2 separate regions of the Homo sapiens genome follow, and region 2 is linked to region 1. The links come from fine-mapping of genetic effects on gene expression. Tissue or cell type: whole blood. Region 1 holds a variant in brackets; the other region holds the start of a gene. All regions are shown on one strand. Distances are from middle to middle.

Evidence for each region. PIP is the estimated chance that this variant, and not a neighbour inherited with it, causes the effect.
Region 2: INTS12 starts here. The variant in region 1 is fine-mapped to the expression of INTS12 in whole blood (TOPMed, PIP 0.91).

Annotation. Positions count from the first base shown.
Region 1 is chr4:105,655,788-105,663,897 of GRCh38, reverse strand. ARHGEF38 (Rho guanine nucleotide exchange factor 38) reads right to left here. Exons shown (of 14, transcript NM_001242729.2): 10 at 4,533-4,844. Among named protein-coding and RNA genes, the nearest start is that of INTS12, 49 kb to the left of the region's middle. The variant C/T (reference allele first, on the strand shown) is at 4,713.
Region 2 is chr4:105,704,177-105,712,286 of GRCh38, reverse strand. INTS12 (integrator complex subunit 12) reads left to right here and starts at 3,598. Exons shown (of 8, transcript NM_020395.4): 1 at 3,598-3,649. It overlaps GSTCD (glutathione S-transferase C-terminal domain containing), which reads right to left and starts at 3,503. Exons shown (of 12, transcript NM_001370181.1): 1 at 3,271-3,503. LOC124900748 (a long non-coding RNA gene) reads right to left here. Exons shown (of 3, transcript XR_007058215.1): 2 at 6,897-6,973; 3 at 6,313-6,408. LOC124900747 (a long non-coding RNA gene) reads right to left here and starts at 5,905. Exons shown (of 2, transcript XR_007058214.1): 1 at 5,864-5,905; 2 at 4,191-4,386. RefSeq lists an enhancer at 3,274-3,523.

The DNA of each region.
Region 1 (8,110 bases):
CCCAGATTCAGGTGATCCTCCAGCCTCAGCCTCCCGAGTAGCTGGGATTACAGGCATGTGCCACCACACCTGGCAAGTTTTTGTATTTTTAGTAGAGACAAGGTTTCGCCATGTTGGCTAGGCTGGTCTTGAACTCTCGGCCTCAAGTGATCCGCCTGCCTCAGCCTCCCAAAGTGCTGGGATTACAGGCGTGAGCCACCACATCCAGCCCAAAATGTGTTTTTTATATATAATGAAATATTCACAGTTAAAAATGAAAGAAATCCTATCACATGCTACAACACGAATGAATCTTGAGGACATTATATTAAGCAAAATAAGGCAGTCACAGAGACAAACACTGTATGATTCCATTTACATGAGGTATTTAAAGTAGTCAAATTTGTAGAAACAGAAAATAGAATGATGGTTGCAGGGACTTGGGGGAGGGGAGTATGGGGACTTGTTTAATGAGTATAGTTTCAGTTTTGCAAGATGAAAATGTTTTGGAGAGCTATTACACAACAATATAAGTATACTTAACACTACTGAAATGTACACTTAAAAATTCTTATAATGGTAAATTGTGGTTTTTTATACAATTAAAAATTTAAAAATTATTTACATTATTATTCTCATTTTAATTCATATGAGAAAATTTAAACAGAAGGATACATTAATTTACACAATGTAGTATAGCAGTGAGCAGGTATTAAAACAAGGTACTCTAGTGTTCTCTAATCACTATTCAATTCTGCCTTTCAGAAATACATGTAGTTATGCAAGATGTGTTACCATTGGGTAAGCTGTGTGAGGGTTGTACAGGATCTCCGTAATACTTCTTACCACTGCATATGAATCTCTAAGTATCACAAAATAAAAAGTTTAAATATACAGAACATATAAAATAAAGAATAAAATCATTTTAATGAGGATAACTTCTCCAAAATGCCTTTTACTTTAAGACACTAGAAATTTCTCAAAAACAAAGCATCTCTATGCTCTTGTTTGGCTATGGACTGCAATGTGAAAGATACTCAGATAATTTAAAATAGAAACTGAAAATGCCTTTAAAAATCACATGATTCAAAGTGGGGATCAAAGATACCTAAAATAACATGTCTTTTCTGACTAGTAAATTCCTGCCAAAGCTCAACTTTGTTCTGAACTTATGAACCCACCTTCTACCATGACCTCAGAATGAAATTATCGAAATAATTTGCAAATTAAATGTGTTTCATTGAGAAAGCAGTAACAAGAGATTATTTTTAAATAAATAGTGTTGGAGCAACTGGAAAGTCATTTGGAAAAAGATAAAATTAAATCCATATTTTACAACATGAACCAGGATAAAATCTACATGGATTGATTATTTAAATAAAAAAATATGAAACCCTAAATATACTAGAAGAAACACTGCTGAATTTATTTGGAGCCTTAAAATATGGAAGTCCTTTATAAGATTCAAAATCTAGAAGTCATAAAATGAAATTAATAAATCTGACTGCATTTTTTAAAAACACAAACATTAGCATGAAAAAAAATCACAAGTGAAGTCAAAGACAAAGGTTAACTTGGAAAAAGTAGTCTCAATTTTTATCTCAACAAAAGGCTCATCTCCCTAGCATATACATTGCTGCTAGAAATTAAGGAGAAAAATACCAAGAACCCAAAGAAAAAGGAGTAAAACACATGAACAACTAACTCACAGGAAGATAAATAGCCCTCATATGTGAAGACTCTCAATCTCACTAATACTTAAAGAAATGCAAATTAAAATTACACTTGAAACCTATTAGATTGGCAAAAATCCAGAGAAACCAGCTTTCTTACATGTTACAAGTGGGAATCCAAAATGGTACATAGTTAAGCAGGGAATCTGGCAATATCCAGCAAAATTACATACGTCTTTACCCTTTGACACAGAGATCCCACTTCTATCATTTCTATAAATCTGTCCTACAGATACATCTGTCCACGTATCATGACCCCGGCATTATTTGTAATAAAAAAACGTTGGAAATAGATCAAATACTCATCAATAGGGACAGGTTAATACACAAAAGAATACATATTGTATGATTCCATTTATATGAAGTACAAAACAGGTCAAACAATGTATGGTAATACAGGTTAGAAAAATGGTTACCTTTAGGTGCCTGGGAATGGTCATGAGTGATCTTTATGGGGAACTGGAAAGGGATTATATCTTGATCTGGGTGGTAGTTACACAGATGTGTATATGCAAATATTGATTGAGATGTGCAGTTCAGACTGGTGCAGTTTAATGTATAGAAGTTATTACTTCAATTTAATGAGTTTTAAAACAGTGCTGATCAGGGAAATACAAATAAAAACCACAATGAGATACCACTGCACACCCATTAGGATAGCTATAACAATAATAATAATAATAATAATAATAATAATAATAATAATAATAAAGAGGTGTGGAGAAATTGAAACTCTCAGTCGATACTGCTGAGAAGATAAAATAGTGCAGCCACTTTGGAAAACAGTCTGGTTGTTTTTCAAAAGGTTAAACATAGAGTTAACATATGATCCAGAAATTCCACTCCTAGGTATATAATCAACAGAAATGGGAACATATATCCACTAAAAACTTGAATGTTTACAGAAGCATTACTAATAACAGCCAAAAAATGGAAATAACCCAAATGCCCGTCAACTGACGAATGAATAAGTAAAGTGTGGTATATTCATACAATGGAATGTTATTTGGCGATAAAATGAATGAAATAATGAAACATGCTAGGCATGAAGAAACCCTGAAATGTTATGCTAAATAGAAGAAGCCAGTCACAAATAACCATGTACTGTATGATTTCATTTATACAAAATGCCCAGAATAGGAAAATCTGTACAGGCAGAAAGTAAATTGATAGTTGCCTAGAGCTGGGGAGGTTAGGAAAAAATGTGGATGGGTACAGGGTTCCTTTAGGGGGCCACGACAATGTTCTAAAATTGGTTGTGGCAATGGCTGCACAACTCTTGTGAATATACTAAAAATAATCAAATTGTATACTTTAAATAGGTGGAATGTATGGTATACAAATTATATCACAATAAAGTTATTTTAAAAAAAGGGAATGGTTATACATTATTATACAGCCATGCAGTAAGTTACTATAAAGCTGTAAAAAGAATTAGGAAGCTCAGGCTGGGCGCAGTGGCTCATGCCTATAATCCCAGCACTTTGGAAGGCCGAGGCGAGTGGATCACCTGAGGTCAGAAGTTCGAGACCAGCCTGACCAAAATGGAGAAACCCCGTCTCTACTAAAAACACAAAAATTAGCTGGGCTTGATGGCACATGCCTGTAATCCCAGCTACTTAGGAGGCTGAGGCAGGAAAATCGCTTGAACCCGGAAGGTGGAGGTTGCAGTGAGCCGAGATTGGGCCTTTGCACTCCAACCTGGGCAACAAAAGTGAAACTCCATCCCCCCCCACCAAAAAAAAAAAAAAGAATGAGGAAGCTCTTTATGTACTATTATAGATGCATTCTCAGAATATATTGTTAAAGAGCAAGTGCAGAATGGTATATATAATATGCTGTTTTTTACTTTTAAGAAATAAAAATATATACTTGCATTTATTGTTACTGGCATGAGAAAGCACTAAATGCATAAAAATAAACTAACAAAAATGGGGATGAGAGTGGCGAATGGGATGCTAGAGGAACAGGTATGAGTGTGAGACTGATTATACATTTACACAGTTTTGGCTTTTGAACCCTGTAAACATAGCCCTCGTTTATTCAATTTAATTTAATTCAAAGTATAAGTTAAAAGTTAATTAATGCACAATAGAAAATAAAGTAGGGACAATTATTTCTGCTCCAGGTGTTACCCATTGAATAGCTGTCCATCTCATTCAGATGAGAACTAGTGTAGTTGAAACGTAGGGCCAAGAAACCAAGCTAATTTTTCAAAAGTTGATATAAGTTGTAAATATCTTTCTTCCTCATCAGGAAAATAATTATAAAATTATATCCTAATGGGAGGCGAAGCTACACACACACACACACACACACACACACACACACACACAAAACCAGGCTTCTCTTTCTTGGGGAAAAATGAAATCAAAACAAAGCATGGTTTGAATGTTATCCTGCATCTTTCATTATGCTGAGATGGCCTTCTTTTTAGAGCCACATCTTAAATAGTCACAGTTAACATCTAAGAACTATTGATCAGAAAAAAATACAAAATATAAATTGTTGATAAGCTTCAATGTTGCATCAGGCAGGTGGAGCAAGGCTGAAAGGTGTTTGGTATTTGAAAAGGCATCTCCAAAAAAGAATTACAAATGTGTAAGTCACAGTAAACCTGAACTAGGAAACCCTCTTTGAGTTTCCCATGGATAAGACAGATAAGGAACAGGAGACTATCTGACTGGATTTAGTTAAAATAAATACACACACACCACACGGCATACATGTGCACACTCTGAACAGGGCTTTCGTATGGGTGTGGTTTCTAGCAGATCCAGTAGGCCAAGGTAGCTAGCTAGGTGTTGGTGCTGTGCTTACCGGCACAAGTGTGGAGTAAGCCTGCTGTGCCACGAGCATCAGGTCCCTAAGGAGGGTAATGAAGCTGCATAGACAGTTCAACAGAATCTTCCGAGCAGCCTGGTTGAATGCCTGGAGCTCCTCCACAAGCTGGGCGTTGAGGGCCTCATACTCCTTTTTGGCCAAGTCTGACTCCTCTCC[C/T]GTTGATCGCTGCAGGTAGCTGTTGCAATCCAGCAGTTTGTCATAGCGTTTCTGGATGAGCTTGTGAGGCCCTGGGAATAAGGACAGCAGGGCTGACAAGGGGGTCAGGATGAGTCTCTGTAAGTGAGATGCCTGCCAAAAGAAAAAATGAGCCCATTTCAGAGAGAGGATCAGCCCATACCTTGTCCAGTTCTGCTATCCATAGGTTTACCTTTTCCCCCACGAGAAGCACAAAAGAAAACAGGAAAGCACCTACCCAGATTAAAAGAGGATCTGATCATTTTGTGTCTGGCTAAACCTATTCAAAGACTTAAAACAGGAGCTCTAGGTTGTAACATTGAACCTAAAAAGTGAGCAGGAAGAGGAATACAAAAGTTAAAGCCTGCTCACCCAAAATATAACTCCACTTTTTTCTCTACAGTCTTTGGTTTTGTCATTGTCATCTCCTTCAACACTTTCTCATTCCCCTCCTTTCTCATCCCAGAGCCAGCACTTGAGGGTAGGGGGGAATCTCTAGCCTTTGACTACCAAGACTGTGTAAAAGATTCACCATATCGCTCCCACCTTCTGCTGGCAGCAAAAGGAATATAGTTCATCCCATAGGAGACTGTACCCTATTCTTCCCATATCAGCCCCAAATCCCTGGCTACCCTGGAGGCTTATGTTTGATAGTGGAATTATATCCCCTATACAGATAGTAACCCCTTAATAAAGGTATTTTAATCTTGAAACAGAAATGACCACAGAGTTGTAACTTGTTTTATTTTTAATTAATTAATTAATTTTGAGACAGGGTCTCACTCTGTCGCCCAGGCTGGAGTGCAGTGGCACTTTCTCAGCTCACTGCAGCCTCTGCTCAAGCCATCCTCCCACCTCAGCCTCCCGAATAGCTAGGACTACAGGAATGTATCACCACGCTTGGCTAATTTTTAAAATTTTTGGTAGAGATACGGTCTCACTCTATTGCCCAAGATGGTCTTGAGCACTTAGGCTCAAGCAATCCTCTCACCTTGGCCTACACATTCTGTTTTAAATACATTAAAGGATTAAGCTGATGCTGTTTCTGTGTCTTAAATTGTTTACACTTTTTGGCCTGAGTCATTGAAAATGAACTTCATAGAACTGCCCAACTTCATGACATAACCTGATCATCCTAGATTTAATTTCTTCTATTTCTCTTCTGTTTTACATTTGCTGACTGCCCTACTTTACCCTTTATCATATATGCTTATATGATATTTTATGATAATTTGGAAGTAGGTTTCTCTTTTGTAACCCGAAAGCTATCCTAGGGAATCAGTATCTGAGCAGCAGCTTGTATTAATTAACTTAAATGGCCCCTGGTAAGTTGGTCTGAACTCATGGGAAATCTAGGGGAGAGGGAAACCAATCTCTTATTGGCACCAGCAATAGCCAACACAAATTAAATTTGATGTCTAGCTTATGAGATAGTCAATATACACCTAGAGACTGTTTAATGAGTCCCTTGATAAACAAAGAATCTATTTACTGTATCTGGGATAAATTACTATGTTTGTGACTTGACTGGATTCTACAGGTAATCTAATTACAGTATTATATATATATATATATCCAGTGACTCACAGACACAAAATGATTCACCTTTACTTAGGAATTGTTGTTAGAACAAATAAGAATTAGACTTTATTATTTTGTCCTAAAAAAGTGTAGATATGTATTACTCATGGTTAGATAAGAATAACTGCTCTGCCTTTAGACAGATTTTGAGTTCTTAATATTTGATTTTTAAAAAGAGTTCTATATATGTTATCCATAAAAGTTACTTTTATATTGAGCCTTCTCACAATTTTTTTAACTTAGCCTAATTAATCATCTTGTGGTTTTATGCAAGGTATGCAGGACACTTCTGGCTTCTTTCCATCAAAGTCTGGAGCATGCTTGCTGAGGGAGAAGCTACATATCACACTTTCAGGTGGTACTCAATAAATATATATTAACTTAATGTATTGGAACTAAGCTAAAGAGCAAACCTTTAAAGACTTCTAGAATGTGTGCTCTCTATAATTAAATGCAGAAAATACATAAAGAACTAGCCACACCTTTTCCATTAAACATATACTGTAAAAACTATCTATCTATCTATCTATCTATCATCTATCTATCTATCTATCTATCATCTATCTATCTCATCATCACCATCATCTATCTGCCTGTACCTATCCATCCATCCATTCATCTGTCGTTGACCTGTTTCTCTATCATATTAGCTCAGATGTAAGCCTGACTTTCCATTCCCCAGTGCCAGAAAAGCAAAATGCTCCTGCCTGGTTTTTCTACTAGATCGGGGGCTGTATGACTTCCTAGGGTTTGGAATTATGTGAGGCTCTTCACTGGTTGTCACAACGTCTTGATGTGAGGGGATGTTACTGAGATTTTGAGCCTGGTGGGCCAAAAATGCTGAACATCCTCCACCAAAAGGCCACTCCATGAAGATTTGTCTTACCCAAAATGCCTATAATGCCAACACGAAAATGCCACTTTCAAGATGATCAGTCTATCTTCTCTATAATTCTTGAAATACTACTATGAAATAATAATACCTATAGAAACACAAGGCACTAAATTAAAATTAATATTACCCAGAGTAACTTACTACTAAAATGTGTTATTGGCTCAAGCATGTTTTTATGATTCCCAAGATATATTTTATAGAACTCTTACAAAATAAATGTTTTACCGTGGAACAAAATAAATAACATATGACTCTTAAATAAAAGTCTTTCTCAATAGGAAGTCTTTGCCTTCCAGTATATAGCATGTTAATAAGTGTCATATCCTCAGTGAGTACCTTTGCTCTTTCTGTAAGGACTCAAGGCATTTCCAGAGACTTGTTTAAGAAAAGCATAGCTCACTTGACCCCAGGAGTTTGAGACCAGCCTGGGCAACATGGTGAAACCCCGCCTCTACAAAAAATGCAAAAAATCTTCTAGGTGTGGTGGTGTGCCCCTTTAGTTCCAGCTACTCGAGAGGCTGAGGAGCGAGGATTGCTTAAGCCCAAGAGGCAGAGGTTTCAGTGAGCTGAGATTGTTCCACTGCACTCCAGCCTGGGCAACAGAGCCAGATCCTGTCCCAGAAAAAAGAAAAAAGAAAAAGAAAAGCAAAGCTTTCTAACTTAATAATTTCTTAATATTTCACATGCAGACTTAAACTAAATATTAATTTTAAAAGCTGCACTGACACTGGCTACCCCTAGAAACACAATCTGTGGTCCTCTTAAATTTCCATCATAGTAAAATCCTCACTAATCCACTTTAAAAATATTAAATGATTTAAAAAAATCCCATTTAAATCTACTAATTTTGACATTAATATTTGCTTTAGTGCATGTTTTATTTCTGACTCCAGAAAAACAAACA
Region 2 (8,110 bases), 48 kb before region 1:
TTTCTGCATAAATATTAACTCAGAACAGCCTCTCCTGACTGCCTGAATTGAAAAAGCACACCCTAGCCTCTTACCTAGCTTCCCTTTTTCTTCATAGCTCTTATCACCTAACACTATAACATCTCCAGTGCTTAATGAACTGAAACTTTAGTTCAAGGAATGAATGTACATATATGAATGTCAGAAATCACTGTCTGAGAGTATTATTAATAACTTTAGTCTTGGTACAATGTGTATCTCATTCTTCATGACACCATTCTTTCTTTTCCAAATTAATAACTCTATTTTAAGGACCAACTAAGTATAAATTAAAATGAAGAAATAAGATCACCTTTGTGAGGTGAATCGGGAAAAGTATAAATGGAATCTAACCAAACTCATAAATAAAGCAAGCACAGAAGTTTTTATGTATACTTATATCCAGGGCAAAGGAACTAAGAATCTTAACTAGATTCCATACATGTGCCTAGCAAGAATATTTATAAAACAAGAATTATAAAGTAATAGATTAGAGCCGAGACTGTTGAGCCAGACCACCTGGGTGCAAATATACTGGTTCTGATTCTTAGTAGCTATAAAAAACTTTTCTGCATATCTGTTTCCTCACTTATATAATAAAATGGAGACAATAATAACTGTACCTACCATGTAGTGTGCCATACAGAAAAAAGCTTGTCACATATTAAGTCCTTAAATAAATACTAGCTACTATTATTTCTTTATAATTTATAACCAAATTCCTTATCAACTGGCACTATTAAAATATGCAAACCTTGATGGGCAAAACCCAAATTATGGTTTATATTTTCAAGCTTCTTTCCATGAAAGGTAAAGGATTTATATTGATTGAAAAGTTTTTCCCAACCAAATACTGAAAAAAAACATATTTGTTACTGAGGCTGAAAGCCAGGGAATCATGAAATGGTAAAATATAAACGTGAAACCCTTAATCCATGTGCATATCAACCTATTGTACAAAATAAGAAGTTCAACACAGTTTATAAGTATGAAAAATCACAAACACTTACTTTTCTTAAAGATTAAAATTTAAACCTGCCTAAATTCTCTCCTACATCATATGTTCAACATTTTGAATTTTATAACTTATCTTGTGTTTTATGCTTTTCATAAAACAACAGTATTTGGCTGAAAATTGTACCCTATTTTATTACAATAATATAGATTTAACCAAAACAAAACAAAACAAAAAAACATGCCCCTCAACAGATAGATAGCAGCCAATTACCTTAAATATTTAGGGTCAAAAACGATAAGAAAAACACTGAGATTTTTTCAAGCTCATTAAATACGTAATATGGGATGCAGTTAAGTCCTAGAGAACAAAAGCCAGTGATTAAAATTAGCTGTTTTCTTATCTGGTAAAGAAGTAGGAAAAGTTTTTAAGTGAAAAGCTTACAGTAACCTTAGCCACAAACGAAGTGTGTAATCTCTCTGGAGAATCAGGGAATCATCTGTTGCCATGGAGTCATAATGCCTTCAGCTAAACCCGACCTCATAATTAACAGTGATCGACAGCGCAAATGGCTAACATGTTACCAAGTATGAAATAAAATTACTGAATTTTCACAGCAAACAATACCTGTGCTTGTTTTAATCTAAATGGTTTCAATATCTGCATTCCAAGTATTTATTCTTTGTTAGAAAAGCTAATTGGATACTCAGTATTTATTTTTATTTAAAAATCACAGATGATGAAACAAAAGCTACAAGTAAAACAAGTTTAAAAAAACAAAAACAGGCCGGGCGCGGTGGCTCACGCCTGTAATCCCACCACTTTGGGAAGCCGAGGCGGGCGGATCATTTGAGGTCAGGAGTTTGAGACCAGCCTGGCCAACATGGTGAAACCCCTCCTCGACTGAAAAAAAAAAAAAAAAAAAAGGAGCCGAGTGTGATTGTGGGCGCCTGTAATCCCAACTACTCGGGAGGCTGAGGCAGGAGAATTGCTTGAGCCCGGGAGGCGGATGTTGCCATTGCAATCCATCCCCAGGCGACAGAGCAGGACTCCAGCTCAAAAAAAAAAAAAAAAAAAAAAATTGATGGGCCCACTACTACAGAAGCTCAAGTTTGAGCTGTGTTTAAATTAAAGCAAAAACACGTAGAAGTGCAAAGTATATAAAATAAAAAGAAATGATGATTCTCAAATCTCATTGACCTTTTCAGTCTTATTTTTGAAGTGAGACCTCACAAAACGATACTTTCAGGTGTAATACAAACACAATTTTTAGTAATGAGTGTGCTTAAAGCAATCCTCTCAGTGGTGTATGCTCCCCATCAGGCAGTTAAAAAAAAAGAAAAAAAAACCCGCATAGCTTAATGTTTATTAAATATGACAGCGAATCACTTAGTTGTGTTATAACAGTTTATTATCATGGATTTAAATGACTATGTTTACATGTTTAAAATTATCACATCACTAGTTCTTGCTAGCTTTTGCATTTTCTCCTGTAAACATTGTTTTTACAGATAAGCTTAGGTAAAATAGAAATACACCACCTTCTTTATCAATAATGTAGCACACAATATATTACTAAAGCTGGCATTTTCTTGATATTCAAGAATTTATGACAAGGAATGGGATCCTGGCATTAAGAATAAAGGGGAAAAAAACAAGTCATCTCATCCCAAAACCAGGTAGAAAGTTGGGATGGGAAGTACGTGTATTAGCAAACGTTTTTGAAACCAAAGCAACTTTCATGCAAATTAAACTTTCTATAGAAGTTAAAAACCCAAGAGATACTGCTGTGATGACAAAACATAAGCAAATGGCCCCAAATGAAGCAAGTCCTTTGGAGTAAATGTTAAGTAGTATTCACATAGAACTGCTTTCTGCAATCAGGAAGGGCTGGAATGGAAAACTCAATGCCAAAGAGAGAAGAGAAGTTAGTGTGACCCAAGAGGTCTTGAAGTAACACTTAACAGCAAATATCAAACCACCCCAACCAACGCCTCCAACTGGAAGCTGCCCCATTTCTCCATCAGCAGAGGAAGACATGAGGGACTGGCTAGGGGGAAACTGGGAAACGCGTACTACCGAGAAGCCCAGAGCCCTCAACCCGCACCTTCAGCAGGAGTGGCCAAAAAGGAGTTTGAGGCGGCCCCAGGGCGGGAGAAAAATCAGGACGATGATACCACGCCCTTGTCCTTCCCACCCTTCCCCCGCATCCTCAGCCCTGCAGACCCCCGAAGAAAAGACCAGTTCTTAGGGGGTCGCGGAGGCTGAGAAGCCGGCGGCCCGAGCGCCCTCTTTACCTGGTCGCAGAGGCGCGGCCAGGCAGGGAGGGTGCGTGAGCGTGTCGGCGACCTGGGCCGCCTGCGCCTTCCCGCCCAGTCCGAGCTGGAATTCCAAGGCTGCCTCTGGGAGCTGCTGCCCGCAGACCACTCGCCTCCACAGACGCCAGGAGAAAAACGACAGCCACCTTATGTGGAAAATACTCGCGCCGGCCGTCATTCATAATCCGGCGGACCGGAAAAAGGGAAGTAACGTCACTTCCTACTGTCGCACTGCCAAACGTTTCCCCCGCCCCTACTGTGGGAACCTTTGTTTTCCTGCTTTCGGAGCCGGCCAGTGCGGGAACCGTTTCCGAAGGGACCACCGGGAACAGACGGATCGGCAGGGCGGGGCGGAACGGTGAGTTATGCTGAGCGACTCTGCTCCTGGCCTCCTGGAGGCTCGAGACCCCCGCGCCAGGAGCGAGGTGGGAGAGTAGCTACGTGGGGTATTAGTTTCCTCGCTCCTCAAGGGGAATCATAATTTACGGGCGGTTGCGTGCCCTAGACTGACTGCTCTCCCCTTTCAGTGAGGACTGTGCTTCCTCCGAGGGAGTTGCGGGCCGGGACATGCGGACCGAGCATATTTCTAGGTCTAGGGACAAGGGACTTGGAATCCTGCCTCGGACTTTGTCGGAGGGTTTTAGTGACTTCTCTACGTAGCTCCCTCATTGTCTCTCATCTTTTGGCTCCCCTGTCAAGGACCATCCCCCATTCTAGGACTTCGATGTGTGATGCTTTGATCAAAGGATTGACATTCCTTTTCTAAGTGTTTGCTGTCAGCTTTCAGCCACTTGATTGGTTTGGAATCGGAGCCTTTTCTCCTGCGATTCCAGGTGTCCCTAAGGTATCAGTGTTATCCAGAACCAAGAACTCAGTGGAGGAATGAAAAAGGCAGCATCTTTAAAATAATGTTTATTGGAAGGGGTTGCAAGAGCTTGCGAAGTCATGAAGAACAAAGTTTTTTAGAGCCATTATGAAATGGCAACGATAATACTGCACTCTATGTGAACAGTTTCTGTTTCCTTCATCTGGGGCACGTGCATATGATCAACTTTGGACTTCTTTTGAGATTGCCAGGTAGGGTGAAAAATGGATCTAGGAGAAAGCACATACTTATATTTATATATGAATGCCCAATTTAGACTGGAGAGATCACAGAAGCCTTATAAGGTGACATTTACGCAAAAAACCTAGTTCGTTCATTCGATAAATATTTTTGAGCCCTTATTAAGTTTCAAGCACTAGGGAAATAACAGTGAACAAAACAAGTTCCTGCTGTCATCAAGTTTACAGACCAGTGGGATTAATGAATTAAGCAAGACAGGCGAAAGATTGTGAGAATTTTACAGATAGGAACATTGTACTACAAGTCCCCAGTCGTGAAAGAGGTGATTGCTTTGCTTTTGCTTTTTTGATGTTTGGAGTTTTTTTTGTGGGGGCAGGGGTGAGTTACTTTTGTGATTTTTGCTGAAGGGACCTTGGAAATGGCTACAATTGTGTAGAAGGAGAGATAAGACCACTATACTTTGATCACTTAATTCCAGTAATTCTATAGCCATTATTTTGTTGTACTTTGCAAAGTGGCAAAGAGATAGGCAAAAAGATAAATATAGACTCTGCCCTTAAAGTACTCAGAGTTTTGTAGGGGACATAACACTTGTGCCAAAAAAAAAAAAAAATGCTTCAAGGGAGAAAGTTGCAATACCATGAAAAAGCACTATGAGATATCCTTGAATGGAGAGACTATTAATAGGGTTTGGAATGGAGAGGGGCACAGCAGCTGTCAGTCAAATCTTCATGAGAAGTATTTGAATAGGGTCTTGATAGGATGTAGATATATAAAAATAGGTAAAGAGCTTCCTGGACAAAAAAAATAAGAGTGGCAGGGTCAGCTAGCTATAAGGCAGATCTGGGGATGATGAATGATAATTTTTGTGCCAGTTACTGAATCTTCTTAAATGCTAGGCCAAGAAATTTGGTCTTTATTTCGAAGGTGGTAGAAAGCCCTAACTTCTCAGCAAGAATTTTTTTTTTTATTTTAATGAAAAAGAAGAAAACTGGGTTTCAGGAAAATTCATATGGCAACAATGTTGAAGTCAAGGAAAATAACGAGGTTATTGCCATAGTTCAAGTAAGCTAATAAAACCTGAATTTCAGTAGTAGCAGTGGAAGTGAAAAGTAGGACAAGTGTGAAAAATATTGCCGTCAGAATCCACAGGAATTCTGATTATTTGAATATAAGGAGTAGGGAAAGACTCAGTGAAGGAAAGACTTTGGTCTCAAACCTGACTAAAAGAAAGTTGTGTCATTTATTGAAAGTAAGAGCAGGACAAGGAACTTTTCGGGAAGATAATCAGAATCTCAATTTTAGTTGTAACTGAATTTGAGATGCCATTAAGGAATCACATAGACACATACACTAAGCATTTGGAAACATGGGATTCAAATTTAAGAGATTTGGCTCGCACTTGTAATCCCAGCACTTTGGGAAGCCACAACAGGAGGATTGTTTGAGACCAGATAAGAGCAACATAGCAAGACCCTGGCTCTACTTAAAAAACAACAAAATTACCTGGGCATGGTTACGGTGGTGCATGCCTGTAGTCCTAGCTGCTTGGGAGGCTGAGGCAGGAGGATCACTTGAGCCCAGGAGTTCGAGGCTGCAGTGAGCCATGATCTCAGTGCACTCCAACCTGGGTGACAGAGCAAGACCATGTCTCAAAAAAAAAAAAAAAAAAAAAGAGATTGAAGTTGGGGTAAAACATATTAAATCATCTACCCAGAGATGATAGTTGAAAACCTGATGTGTATAAGATTACCAAGAAGAAACTGCTAGCAGAACTAAGAAGATAGCCAAGGACAAATACTTGGACAATACCAAAAGCAACAAAGAAGATAAGCCAAAGAAAGAGTAGTCAGAGATAGAAGAGGAAAAACAGAAAAGTTGAGTATAACAGAACTCAAGGGAAGAGAAAGTTTTATGAAATTGGAAGTAGATAACAAGTATTTACTTGGCCAACATTTACAGTTATTTGCTGTTTTCCAGGAACTCTGCCAGACAGGGGTTACAACAGTAGGCAAGACCAATCCACTGCCTGCCTTCATGGAACTTACATTCTAATGAGAAAGAAAGATTATTTACATAATTAACAGTGTGATTAATATTACAAATAAGTACAGAATGTTTTTGGGCTATGTAACAGTGAAACTTCTAGTTTTGTTGAGGGAATGTGCAGGAAAAACTGAAACTTGAGAGGTGACTTAAGATGGAGGTGGGGGTGGCACACTTTCTACTGAAGTGCTAAGGTAAGAAAGAGTATATTGGAGGACTTGAAATAAGTCAGATAGCTATAACAGAGAGAGTGAGAATGGCCTAAGATACTAGGTAACATTTAATGAGTGTCAACTATGTGTCAGGTACTGTTGTAACTGCTTTATATGTATTATTAATCATGTAGAGCAATGGTCCACAACCTTTTTGGCACCAGGGACCAGTTTCATTGAAGACATGGTTTCAGGATGATTCAAGTGCATTACATTTATTGTGCACTTTATTTCTCTTATTACTACATGGTAATATATAATAAAATAATTGGACAACTCACCATAATGTAGAATCAGTGGGAACCTTGAGCTTGCTTTCCTGCAGCTAGACGGTTTCATCTGGGGATGATGGGGTATACTGTGACAGATCATCAGGCATTAGATTCTCATGAGGAGCACACAACGTAGATCACACACATGCACAGTTCACATAGGATTCGCATTCCTATGAGAATCTAATTCCACCAGTGATGTGACAGGAGGCAGAGCTCAGGTAGTAATGCAAGTGATGGGAGTGGCTGTAAATACAAATGAAGCTTCCCTCGCTTGCCTACTGCTCACCTCCTGCTGCATGGCCTGAAGGTTAGGGACCCCTGATGTAGAGAATTGGAGACCTTGTTAAGAATCTTATTCTTGAACCTTTGGATTGTGAGAAGTGATAAAAGGATTTTAAGCAAGTGAGTGATATGAAAAGGTTTAAAGGGATGACAAGAGTGATTGTGGGAGACTGATTAAGCTTTTGCAGTGGGCCAGATAATAGATGATGCTAGGTTGGTCTAGGGTGGTAGTAGTAAGGATTGAAAAGGGTGGATAGATTTGAGGTATGTTTAAGAGGTTTGGTTATTGAATTGGGGGTGGGAATTAAGGAAGTGGGAAGAGTTAAAGCTGCTTCTGGGTTACTGGCTTGGGCAATAGGGTAAATATCATTTGAAAAAGGGATTACTAGAGGAAGAACTGGTTAGGAGAAAAGGGAATAGTGTATGAGTGGCTCTGTTGGAGACACGTTGCATAGGAGGCACCAATGATATATCCATGTCAAGCTGGCAGTTGGATCTTGGGAGAGACACATGGACTGCAGAGATGTATTAGTAATCACTGGCAAAAGACTATATAGATCAAATTGTCTAGGGCAATAATTCCCAAACTTTAGAGTAGATAGAATTGCCTGGAAGGCTTAACACAGATTTCTAGACCCTACTCCCAGAGTTTTTTCTTCAGTAGGCCTAGGAATGGAGACCAAGAGTTTGTATTTCTAAGTTCTGACGTGATACCTATGCTGCTGACTCAGAGAACACATTTTTGGAAGAAGATGTAGAACAAGTCAAGAAGAGACCCAGAACCTAGCACTGAGGAACTCATTTTTAATTGGATAGGAGGAACCTACAAAGATGACTGACAAAGAAGTAGGAGGGACAATCGTATGTATTAGGTTTACCTGACTGAGGCGGCGAATGACTCATGAGAGCATTTTCATGGAATAGTGGGACAAAGGCTG